Linked DNA regions of Homo sapiens. The protein of the gene in region 1 interacts with the protein of each later gene in a pairwise test. Each region holds a gene or a part of one and is shown on either strand. Other genes may lie near its edges.

What was found.
Region 2: the proteins of CHAF1A (region 1) and LZTR1 interact in a two-hybrid assay, tested with the Homo sapiens proteins (one large-scale study listed by BioGRID and IntAct).
Region 3: the proteins of CHAF1A (region 1) and MBD1 interact in binary tests that used the Homo sapiens proteins (3 or more experiments, as listed by UniProt).

What each region holds. Positions count from the first base shown.
Region 1 is NC_000019.10:4,423,059-4,426,707, reverse strand, and holds part of CHAF1A (chromatin assembly factor 1 subunit A), read right to left. Parts: intron 3,374-3,649; coding exon 3,313-3,373; intron 2,903-3,312; coding exon 2,834-2,902; intron 1-2,833. UniProt on the Homo sapiens protein: Acts as a component of the histone chaperone complex chromatin assembly factor 1 (CAF-1), which assembles histone octamers onto DNA during replication and repair.
Region 2 is NC_000022.11:20,985,148-20,988,796, forward strand, and holds part of LZTR1 (leucine-zipper-like transcriptional regulator 1), read left to right. Parts: intron 1-693; coding exon 694-750; intron 751-2,356; coding exon 2,357-2,436; intron 2,437-2,862; coding exon 2,863-2,971; intron 2,972-3,641; coding exon 3,642-3,649. UniProt on the Homo sapiens protein: Substrate-specific adapter of a BCR (BTB-CUL3-RBX1) E3 ubiquitin-protein ligase complex that mediates ubiquitination of Ras (K-Ras/KRAS, N-Ras/NRAS and H-Ras/HRAS).
Region 3 is NC_000018.10:50,271,524-50,275,172, reverse strand, and holds part of MBD1 (methyl-CpG-binding domain protein 1), read left to right. Parts: coding exon 1-44; intron 45-127; coding exon 128-196; intron 197-819; coding exon 820-987; intron 988-1,309; coding exon 1,310-1,609; intron 1,610-1,701; coding exon 1,702-1,839; intron 1,840-2,217; coding exon 2,218-2,349; intron 2,350-2,434; coding exon 2,435-2,496; intron 2,497-3,632; coding exon 3,633-3,649. UniProt on the Homo sapiens protein: Transcriptional repressor that binds CpG islands in promoters where the DNA is methylated at position 5 of cytosine within CpG dinucleotides. Binding is abolished by the presence of 7-mG that is produced by DNA damage by methylmethanesulfonate (MMS).

The DNA.
Region 1 (3,649 bases):
GAGGTCAGTAGTTCAAGACAAGCCTGACCAACATGGAAAAACCCCGTCTCTACTAAAAATACAAAATTAGCTGGGCGTGGCAGCACATGCCTGTAATCTCAGCTACTCGGGAGGCTGAGGCAAGAGAATCATTTGAACGCAGGAGGCAGAGGTTGTGGTGAGCTGAGATCATGCCACTGCACTCCAGCCTGGGCAATGAGCGAAACTTTGTCTCAAAACAAACAAACAAAAAACAACAAAGGCCGGGCACGGTGGCTCACACCTGTAATCCCAGCCCTTTGGGAGGCCGAGGCGGGCGGATCACAAGGTCAGGAGATCGAGACCATCCTGGCCAACACGGTGCAAACCCCGTCTCTACTAAAAATACAAAAAATTAGCGGGGCATGGTGGCGGGCGCTTGTAGTCCCAGCTACTCGGGAGGCTGAGGCAGGAGAATGGTGTGAACCCAGGAGGTGGAGCTTGCAGTGAGCCGAGATGGCACCACTGCACTCCAGCCTCAGCAACAGAGTGAAACTGTGTCTCAAAAAAAAAAAAAAAAAAGACTGTAAACAAAGAGGTAACAGGCTGAGACGAAATATCACGGAGAATGAAATACTAGACTATGTTAAAAAAAACTTACAGATCAGGCAAAGAAAAAAAAAGAAAATCCTGTAGAAAAATAGGTAAAAAAATAGGAATTGGCAAGTCATAGAAGAACTAAAATGGCAAACGAACAGAAAAAGATGCTCAACTGCACCAAGAGTCAAGTAAAAATGGAAAGTAAAACAATGTCAATTTTTAAAAATCCATCAGACTGGCAAAGTTAAAAGAAAATTAATCCCATAAAAATTGCAGTGATAGCAGAGAATGGGGAGGAAATTTCCACACATCGCCGGGAATGTACATCTGAGTTTCCCATCTGGCACGCACTCTGGCCATGGCTCATGATGCTTCAGCAATATGCTATTTTGTCCTAGAGGTGAACTCATGCTTACTTGGCTGTCCCAGAGGAATGCATGTGTGCAGAGAAGCATGTGCAGGGACCCCCCCTACACCACTGAGGGGCAAAGAGGTTGAGATAGTGGCAGGCTCTGTGGCTCATGCCTGTGATCCTAGCACGGTGGGTGGCCAAAGCGAGAGAAATGCTTGAGACCAGGAGGTCGAGACCAGCCCTGGCAACACAGTGAGACCCAGTCTCTACTAAAAATAAAATTAGGGAGGCTGAGATGGGCAGATCATCTGAGGTCAGGAGTTCAAGACCAGCCTGGCCAATATGGTGAAACCCCGTCTCTACTAAAAACACAAAAAATTAGCTGGGAGTGGTGGCAGGCACCTGTAATCCCAGCTACTCGGGAGGCTGAGGTAGAAGAATTGCTTGAACCCGGGAGACAAAGGTTAGAGTGAGCCGAGAGATAGCGCCACTGCTCTCCAGCATGGGTGACAGAGCAATACTCCGTCTCTAAATAAATAAATAATTTTTGTAAAAAAAGAGAGAAACCATATCATTGCATTATGAAGTATTATGCGGCAGTGAAAATACATGATGTGGATCTCTGGCTGTCACAATATGATGTGTAGGTACAACAATGTCACATTGTGCACCTTCAGGATACACAATTGCCATCAAATGTCTCAACATACAAATAAAAGGACAGGCCAGGTGCAGGGACTCACACCTGTAATCCAAGTGCTTTGAGAGGCCGAGGTTTGGAGGATCATTTGAAGCCAGGTCGTCGAGACCAGCCTGGGCAACATAGCAAAACCCAGTCTCTACAAAAAAAAATTAAAAAATTAGGCCGGGCACGGTGGCTCACGCCTATAATCCCGGCACTTCGGGAGGCTGAGGCGGGCGGATCACCTGAGGTCAGGAGTTCAAGACCAGCCTAGCCAACATGGTAAAACCCCGTCTATACTAAAAATACAAAAATTAGCCAGGTGTGGTAGCATGTGCCTGTAATCCCAGCTACCTGGGAGGCTGACACAGAAGAATCACTGGAACCCGGGAGGTGGACGTTGCAGTGAGCTGAGATCGCACCACTGTACTGCAGCCTGGGTGACAGAGTGAGACTCCATCTCAAAAAAAATAAAAATAAAAAATTAGCCAGGCATGGTGGCACATGCCTGTAGTCCCAGCTACTCGGGAAGGCTGAGGTGACAGGATCACCAGACCCTGAGAGGTCAAGGCTGTGGTGAGCTTTGATTGTGCAACTGCACTACAGCCTGGGTGACAGTGAGACCCTGCCTCAAAAAATAAATAAAGGCCAGATACATTAAAAAGAATGAAATACATCTAAATGTGGCAACATGGCACAAATCTGAGATAGCTAAGTACACATGTGTATAAATACAGTGAGTGGAGCAGGGAAAGGCACTGAAGGACCCCTAACATTGGAGATGGGCTCCCTCTGGGTAAAGGGGAAGGAGGGCTGTGGTTTCCATGCACAGATGGTGGCTCAGAAGGTCTGAGATGCCAGGTGACCGACGCCAGGCAGGGAAAGTAAACCTTTGTGAATTGTACTGTTGTTTTACAGCTAAACGTGCTCCCTCCTTAAGCCTAAGTTTCCCAAGGGTAAAAACATGGTGAATTTCTCTTACGCCTAACACAAAATTATTCATGAAGTAACCTCTGAAAACAGCACTGTTTAATCAGACATGCCACTTTTTACCTCTTTGGGACAAAGCGAAGGACAAAATATTGAGCCTCAAGACTTAACCAGAAATGGAAGTGCCCTAGGTCACTGGAGGCTCCCTCCCTCCTAATGAGAGAAGCTGGCTGGGGAGAGACCCTTTCACTTTCAGAAAGGAAAAGTCTAGCAGAGCTGAAACCCAAAAGCAAAGGCAGCCGGCTGCTCACCTTGGGGGCCTGTGGAGTCTTTGGTTTCTGGAAGAACCTCGTGATTTCGGCCTTCTCTGCTTTAATGCGCTGTGATGTTAAGAGATGGTGATGAGAAAGAGGAGAGGAAGAGGAACAGTATGTGTTGCAAAACATGCAAAGGCCCCCAGAACCGAACGTCAAGCATTTTAGCTTGAAGGCACTACTGTGATTTTCAGCTCTCAAAACCCACGGACCCGCAACTGAGCCAGCCAATCTCAAAATGTCCAAGTTGCCCTTGTGGGTAGAAGTGCCAGGATTGCAGGGCCAGTAGGCATGTGACAGCCAGCACTGGGAAGAAGCAACAAGAACGCATCTAGACAGACTCGCCCTCCCTGCGGGCGCCATTTGGTTTCCCCAAACCAAGAGAATATTAGGTGACGGCTGTGGCAAGAATTCCACTTTGGGCATCTGCTTCTCCAACGGGCTGGGACGGGGAAGCTCTGTGGGAAACACTCTACCTTCTCTTCTTCTCTTAACCGTTTCTCTTCTTCCTTTTTCCTTTTTTCCTCAAGTTTAGCCCTGTGAGACAGCAAATGACATTTCAGCCGACTCTTTGCTTTGGCTCTGGAAGGGACCGCAGCACTCAACTGTTAGTATATGGCAAGTATTTCATTTTACATTAAATGAATATAAGTTATTTTCATGTCTAGTATAAGGCTTTTACATAGGTCTTCACAATAAAAATGGAAAACAGTCAATAAAATTCTTCCTGTGACTAGAATATATATAAAAAACTTTAGCCAGTCAGAGCACAATTAGCACAGACAAAACCCACAATCCTGCAATGCAAATGCC
Region 2 (3,649 bases), on another chromosome or scaffold:
CCTCCCGGGTTCAAGCGATTCTGCCGCAGCCTCCCGAGTAGCTGGGATTACAGGCGCCTGCCACCATGCCAGGCTAATTTTTTTGTATTTTTAGTAGAGATGGGGTTTCACCATGTTGGCCAGGCTGGTCTCAATCTCCTGACCTCAAGTGATCCGCCCGCCTAGGCTTCCCAAAGTGCTGGGATTACAGGCGTGAGCCACCGAGCCCAGCCCATTGTCTCTATTTCTTTTTTTTAAGAAGTGGCAGGAAGATCAGAGAGAAGCAAAGGGCCTCTCCTGAGGCACGGGCAAGCACTTGCATTGCAGGGTACAGCTGCAGAGGAAGGGGATTGGGACGTGTGAATAGGGGTTCTGGAGGCTAGGGTGAGGTGTGAGGGTGACTCTGGCCTTTGGGCCATTTCATGCCTTCATGTCAGCTGCTGGTTGGGCTCCTGGTGGCCACATTCATGCTTTGGTCCTGACCCCAGGCAGGCTGGTGTCTGCCTGTGTGGCAGCCCTGGTGCCCATATCAGTTGGGGAGCCTCCTTTGTGGTCACCACTCTTGTTCTTGGGCATCAGCTGGTTGCCTGGCTGTGTTAGTGACCCAGCCCACAACAGCCCCCTACTCTACCCTGGCTACATGCAGTGCCCATCTCTGGGGTCACTGCAGAGTAGACCTGGCTAATGCCACCCTCTCTTCCGGCTGCCTTTCAGGAAGACCATGCTCAATGACCTCCTGCGGTTCGATGTGAAAGACTGCTCCTGGTGCAGGTGGGTGGCCCCGTGCTCCAGGGCCCTGCCTTTCCTCCTAGAACACAGTGGCACAGTGCTGGGTCCCAGTTGCTAGCAGAGTCTCTCTCATCATGGGAAGCTAGAAAGAAGCTTCCAGGAGGAGATAACCACGGCCTCAGGGATGCCACATCCAGAGCCGCCCTGTCAGGCTGAGGAGATCAAGTAACCACCCCGCACCTGCAGCTGCCAAGCTGGGCACACAGGGCGGCACCCTTCTGGGCTGTCCACCTCTACCTCGAGGCTGATGCTAGTATGGGTACAGAAGTTGCTATGTCTTTTCTCTCACACTTGATTTTGTAAGATGGCTAGTAGTTACAAATTAATTTAAAAAATCATTCTGAAGGCTTCACAATTATTTGTCAAAAATTGCTTAAGTATAAAACTCAGAAAAAAGCTAGGAGTTCAAGACCAGCTGGGCAACAAAGTGAGACCCTGTCTAGGAAGATAGATAGACAGATGATAGATAGATAGATAGATAGATAGATAGATAGATAGATAGAAAGAAAGATAGATAGATGATAGAAAGACAAAGAGAGATGATAGATAGATGATAGGTAGATTAGACAGATAGATGACAGATAGATAGATAGTGGATAGATGATAGATGACAGATCGATAGATAGATGATAGGTAGATGATAGGTAGGTAGATTAGATAGATGATGGGTAGATAGATGACAGACAATAGATGATAGATGATAGGTAGATAGATGATAGATGACAGATAGATGATGGATAGATTATATAGGTAGATGATAGGTGGATAGATGATGGATATATAGATTATATAGATTAGATGATTGATAGATGATAGGTAGATAGATAGATGATGGTTAGATAGATAGGTATTAAATGAAATTGATGGACCCCGTGCTGTAAGATGCTGCACTGCTGCTGAGAGCAGGAGTGTGGATGGTCCTGGAGTAGCATGAGGACCTGGTCACATTCTGTGAGTGGAATAAGCAATTTACAAAATATCTGCCACTTGATTCCATTTTAAAAAATTTCATGGAAGCCTAAGTATGCGTAGGAGAGGTGTGCAGGGAAGACCTCAAGGTGTTGCCAGAGGTTTTCTGGTAATGGGAATTTGCATGAGCTTTAGTGCCTATTTTGTTTTTTCCTTATTGGTGATTTTTTTTTTTTAAGTTTCTATGATGAGACAGGTATCACCTTCAAAATACAAAAGTGAAACGTAGCTGGGCGCGGTGGCTCACGCCTGTAATCCCAGCACTTTGGGAGGCTGAGGTGGGCGGATCACCTGAGGTCAGAACTTCAAGACCAGCCTGGCCAACATGGTGAAACCCCGTCTCTACAAAAATACAAAAAATTAGCTGGGCATGATGGTGGGTGCCTGTAATCCCAGCTACTCAGGAGGCTGAGGCAGGACAATCGCTTGAACCCAGGAGGTGGAGGTTGAGCCGGGATCGTGCCACTGCACTCCAGCCGGGACGACAGAGAGAGACTCCGTCTCAAAAAAAAAAAAAAAGAAAAAAGAAAGGCAGCACAGGGATGCAGGGCCACCCTGTGGGGGTGTGGACCTCATGGGTGACCCCCGCTGACTCTCACCACCCCTGTGCCCACCCCAGGGCCTTTACCACTGGGACCCCACCGGCCCCCCGTTACCACCACTCGGCCGTCGTCTATGGGAGCAGCATGTTTGTCTTTGGTAAGCAGCCTCTTGCCTCCCAGGGGCTGTGTCGCCCCGAGGCCCACAGACACCCTGCCCTTCTGCAGGCCTGGGGCATTTGTGCTCGTGCTGTGTACAGCAGGGGCTCTCTCTCCACCCGTGGCTTTGTCTGCCAGTCTTCGGAATTCTGCGCTGGATCTGGGACCCCTTGCCCTAACGGCCCTGAGCTCACAGGGTTGGGTGTCTTTCTGTGTTACTGAGCTGTGGCTGGGAACAGTGTCCTGCTCATCTCTGTGTCCCCAGAGCCCAGCACAGAGGCAGACAGGCAGCAGGTCGTTCCGGGGCTTGTGGAAGGAGTCCTGGCTTATGCATTTTCAGGGGGGCCAGATTCTGCTCCACCTTCCAGGGTTTGAAATCTCCAAGACTGCCCTTTGGGTTTGACAGTTTCTCACTCTCTTTACTCAGGGGGTTACACTGGGGACATTTATTCCAATTCTAACTTGAAGAATAAAAACGACCTCTTTGAATACAAGTTTGCAACTGGCCAGTGGACGGAGTGGAAAATTGAAGGACGGTGAGAAACTTTGCAGAAACATTTGGGACAGGCTGGGTCCTGGGTGGCATTGGACCTGGGATCTGCCCCCTTTTGCCTCCCAGATGAGGACCCTGAGGGCACGCAATAGCAGGGAGCTTGGGATTGGTGGAATATCCCCCGGTGCAGCTATGCATGGCCTGCTCCCAGCCCTTAGACTCCCTCCTTTCAGAAGAGACCCAAATGGACCAGGCGTGGTGGCGCATGCCTGTAGTCCTAGTACTTTGGGAAGCCGAGGTGGGAAGATCACTTGAGCCCATGACTTCAAGGCTGCAGTGAACCATGTGTGCCCCACTGCACTCCAGCCTGGGAGACAGAACAAGACCTTGTCACAAAAAAATGTTCAATAAGATCCAATGTACTGCTGATGGCGCTTCTGGGGTCCCGCTTTTTGAGCACCCCCTTTGATATTTTGGGGGCACCTAGGAGAAGGTTCTGTGCCTCTGTGGCTGTCTGAATTCCTCTTCAAGCCACTAGTCGGCCTCTGGGGCTGTTGTTTATTCCTAGTGCCTTGTGGAGGTCCTGAAGCCCCAGTGTCGGGTGGATGTAGCCATGCAGCCTGGCTGTGGCCCCTGCACTGACCACATGGGGCTGGGTGGCTCAGGTCTGTGCTGGGCGGCCTCACTCCCTCCCCTCTTCCCTCACACTCCAGGTTGCCAG
Region 3 (3,649 bases), on another chromosome or scaffold:
TGCCTCCACCACCCCCATCACAGTCCCCAGAGCCCACAGAGCCGGTGAGGCCCCAGTGGGTGGAGGGAAGGCACAACCCTGACCTTACCCAGTACCTGCCCTGACCCCACCCCATTTGCCTCTACAGCACCCCAGAGCCCTGGCCCCCTCGCCACCTGCCGAGTTCATCTATTACTGTGTAGACGAGGACGAGCTAGTGAGTGGCCCCACCCTACCTGGATAAGCCTAGAATCTCAGGACGCTTGGTTAACTTCAAAGAAGCAGATGCTGGAATGAGCCTATTGGGGAACAGCAAGGCACAATAATGGGTCCTAGGATGGGATGAGTAGATAATGGAGGACTAATACGGGGTCAGCAGGTGCATGAGAGTGCTTCATGTCACATATACCAACACTCTGGTAGCTGATGTGGGGATTGACAGAGGAGCAGCTAGCATAGTGACTGGGGTTCACCTAGGATGAGCGACAGAGTAGGCACAGTGATGGGAGCTAATAGAGAGTTATCAAAATGTTGCTGGAAATGGGGGTCAGAGACATTTTCTTGGTAGCTAGTGGTGGCCTAGGAAATACAGCAGTGGATACTGTAGTGGAGCAGCCACAGTCCTAATGGTATCGAGGGCCAGCTGGCACAGTGATAGTGGCCAATGTTGAACTAGCGAATGCTGAGGAGTGACTAGTGGGGAGTCAGGAGGCTGAGACTAGTATGCAAGTAGCTCCGTCTTATGGGGCTAGAGGAGCACCAGGACCAGCACTGGAATAGGCGTTGAGGATGGCCTCTCCTAGTCCTAGTTGACAGCACCACCCATTCCCCCCACCCCAGCAGCCCTACACGAACCGCCGGCAGAACCGCAAGTGCGGGGCCTGTGCAGCCTGCCTACGGCGGATGGACTGTGGCCGCTGCGACTTCTGCTGCGACAAGCCCAAATTCGGGGGCAGCAACCAGAAGCGCCAGAAGTGTCGTTGGCGCCAATGCCTGCAGTTTGCCATGGTGGGTGGGGCAGGAAGGGTCAGGTGGACGGGATAGGTTGGGCCAGGCGCCCCAGTGCCTGGAAGTGGTGGGCAGGCTTGGTAGGTGGGTGGGTGGGGCAGTAGCTTTGGTTGAGGATTAACAGACATTGTTCTTGGCTTAATGAGTCTAGGTGGCATTGGTGTTGCTAATAGGAGACTAGCAGGCTCAGTGATGAAGGGCTCATATGTAAGCAGATTCCGTGCTGGGACTGATGGGAGATTAGCAGGCATGTGGAGCCGGGCAGGGTGGATGTGATTGGTCAGGACACCAGGTAGCCATAGCACCCTATCTTTCCCCATAGAAGCGGCTGCTGCCCAGTGTCTGGTCAGAGTCTGAGGATGGGGCAGGATCGCCCCCACCTTACCGTCGTCGAAAGAGGCCCAGCTCTGCCCGACGGCACCATCTTGGCCCTACCTTGAAGCCCACCTTGGCTACACGCACAGCCCAACCAGACCATACCCAGGCTCCAACGAAGCAGGAAGCAGGTGGTGGCTTTGTGCTGCCCCCGCCTGGCACTGACCTTGTGTTTTTACGGGAAGGCGCAAGCAGTCCTGTGCAGGTGCCGGGCCCTGTTGCAGCTTCCACAGAAGCCCTGTTGCAGGTGAGGGCCCCACCCTGTCCTGCCTTCCCAGCCTCACCCAGCTGCATGCCAGGGAGCTGAGACCAAGTCTGCTGCAATCCTCCCTCACGCAGGAGGCCCAGTGCTCTGGCCTGAGTTGGGTTGTGGCCTTACCCCAGGTGAAGCAAGAGAAGGCGGATACCCAGGACGAGTGGACACCAGGCACAGCTGTCCTGACTTCTCCCGTATTGGTGCCTGGCTGCCCTAGCAAGGTGGGGGCAGTGATGGATGTTCTGTTGGTGCCGTAGCGGAGTGGTCTGTAAGCAGAGTGATGATGAGCCATGATGGTTCTCTTGAGCAGAGCAATAGATGTGCTGATTGCGACGTTTCTGCAGAATTACCCCGCCTGTCTAACAGACACCCTACCTCCCACAGGCAACTAGCTTTGCCCGCTTTGCTATCCAGCTAACAGAAAAACGGAGGTCAGTGAGGAATGGGAATGGGAAAGCTTTGTAGGCAGAGAGATGGACTTTCTGTGTTGAAATGTGATGGAAGTAGGATTTGTCAGCACAGTGAGGGGTTGGCTGATAGAGACTTTCCTCAGGTGAACTCTGCCCTTCTAATGGTTGCCTGTTTCCTACTTCTCCCAGGCAGTAGACCCAGGCCTGCCTTCTGTGAAGCAAGAGCCACCTGACCCAGAGGAGGACAAGGAGGAGAACAAGGATGATTCTGCCTCCAAATTGGCCCCAGAGGAAGAGGCAGGAGGGGCTGGCACACCCGTGGTCAGTGCTGGGGATGCCCCACCCTGCCCTGACCCTGCTGTAGCCCCAACAACCACATTGACCTATGGTGTTAATTCTTCTCTAGATCACGGAGATTTTCAGCCTGGGTGGAACCCGCTTCCGAGATACAGCAGTCTGGTTGCCAAGGTGTGCCCCACACAGTGAGGGGTGGGGAAGGAGTGGGTGTTGGCCAGATGTGGGCCCTGAGTTTTGAAAGTATAGCCGGCAGTTTGGCATGGTGTGGTGGGAGGTAAAGGCCCATACCCACTATGCTGGTCACAATTAATGAGGGGCGTGTGTGTAGGACCCTAGAGATTTCTCCTGAGATCCAGCCCAATAGCATTCCAGGTTAGGACTCTCCTTTGGGGGTAGGGGAAAGACTTGGTACTCTATCATGAGATTTGAAAGAAAAAGATAGGGAGTCTGGTCCCTATTTTCCTAAGGAATTTCTATAGGGGTCAGCTTTAATATATAAATTCTTATTCAGAGAATAATCATTTGGGTCTTGAAGGCCTTTAGAGTCTCCAGGAGACCTCTGGGTGGGCTGTTGCCTGACATTGAGCAATGTGTACCAGAGAAATGGTGCTGGGCTTGCCTGGGCAGTGGTATGGGCAGGAGATCTGGGTTCCGAGCTGGCTTTGTGAGCTGGGTTCACACGTAGTTGTGTGATCTCTGGTTGCCCTGCACTTCCTGGAGCGGCCTCTGTGGAAGGGCTTGGGCTGGATCTCTTGAGCCTTTCCTGAGCCTATTGAGGTTATTAACTTCAGATGCCTTGCAGAACTGTCCCTGTAGTCCTGGCATAGAACAAAGGGTAGATGCCTGTAAGGACTAGGGTGGTTGGGAGGACAGAGGAGTGCTGGCTCCTGCAGAATATTGACAGACCCTGCATAGAGCCCCAGACACTGGCGATGTAAACTATTGGCCTAAGCACTTGGATTCCTTTGCTCCTACAAACCAGCCCACCAGGCTAGAAACCCTTTCATCTATACTTGGCCAATTACAGAAGTATTGATTGAGTTCCTGTTGGGTGCACAGCATTGAGGACAATGAGCCCTGCAAAGCTTACCCTTCAGGAGACACAGGATACCTACCTTCAGGGAGCTTATAATCTGACTATGTACAAGCTGTCTATAATGGTAGTTTTTAGAAGATATAAAAAAAGATAAAGGATAATTAAGGGGAAGTGGATGGAGGACACAGAATAGTAGGAAATGGTTTTGTAATGCTCCATTGCGCACATAGCAAACCTCATTCAACATACAGACCTGCTCCCTTTTCCCTAGGTCCAAAGACCTTAAAA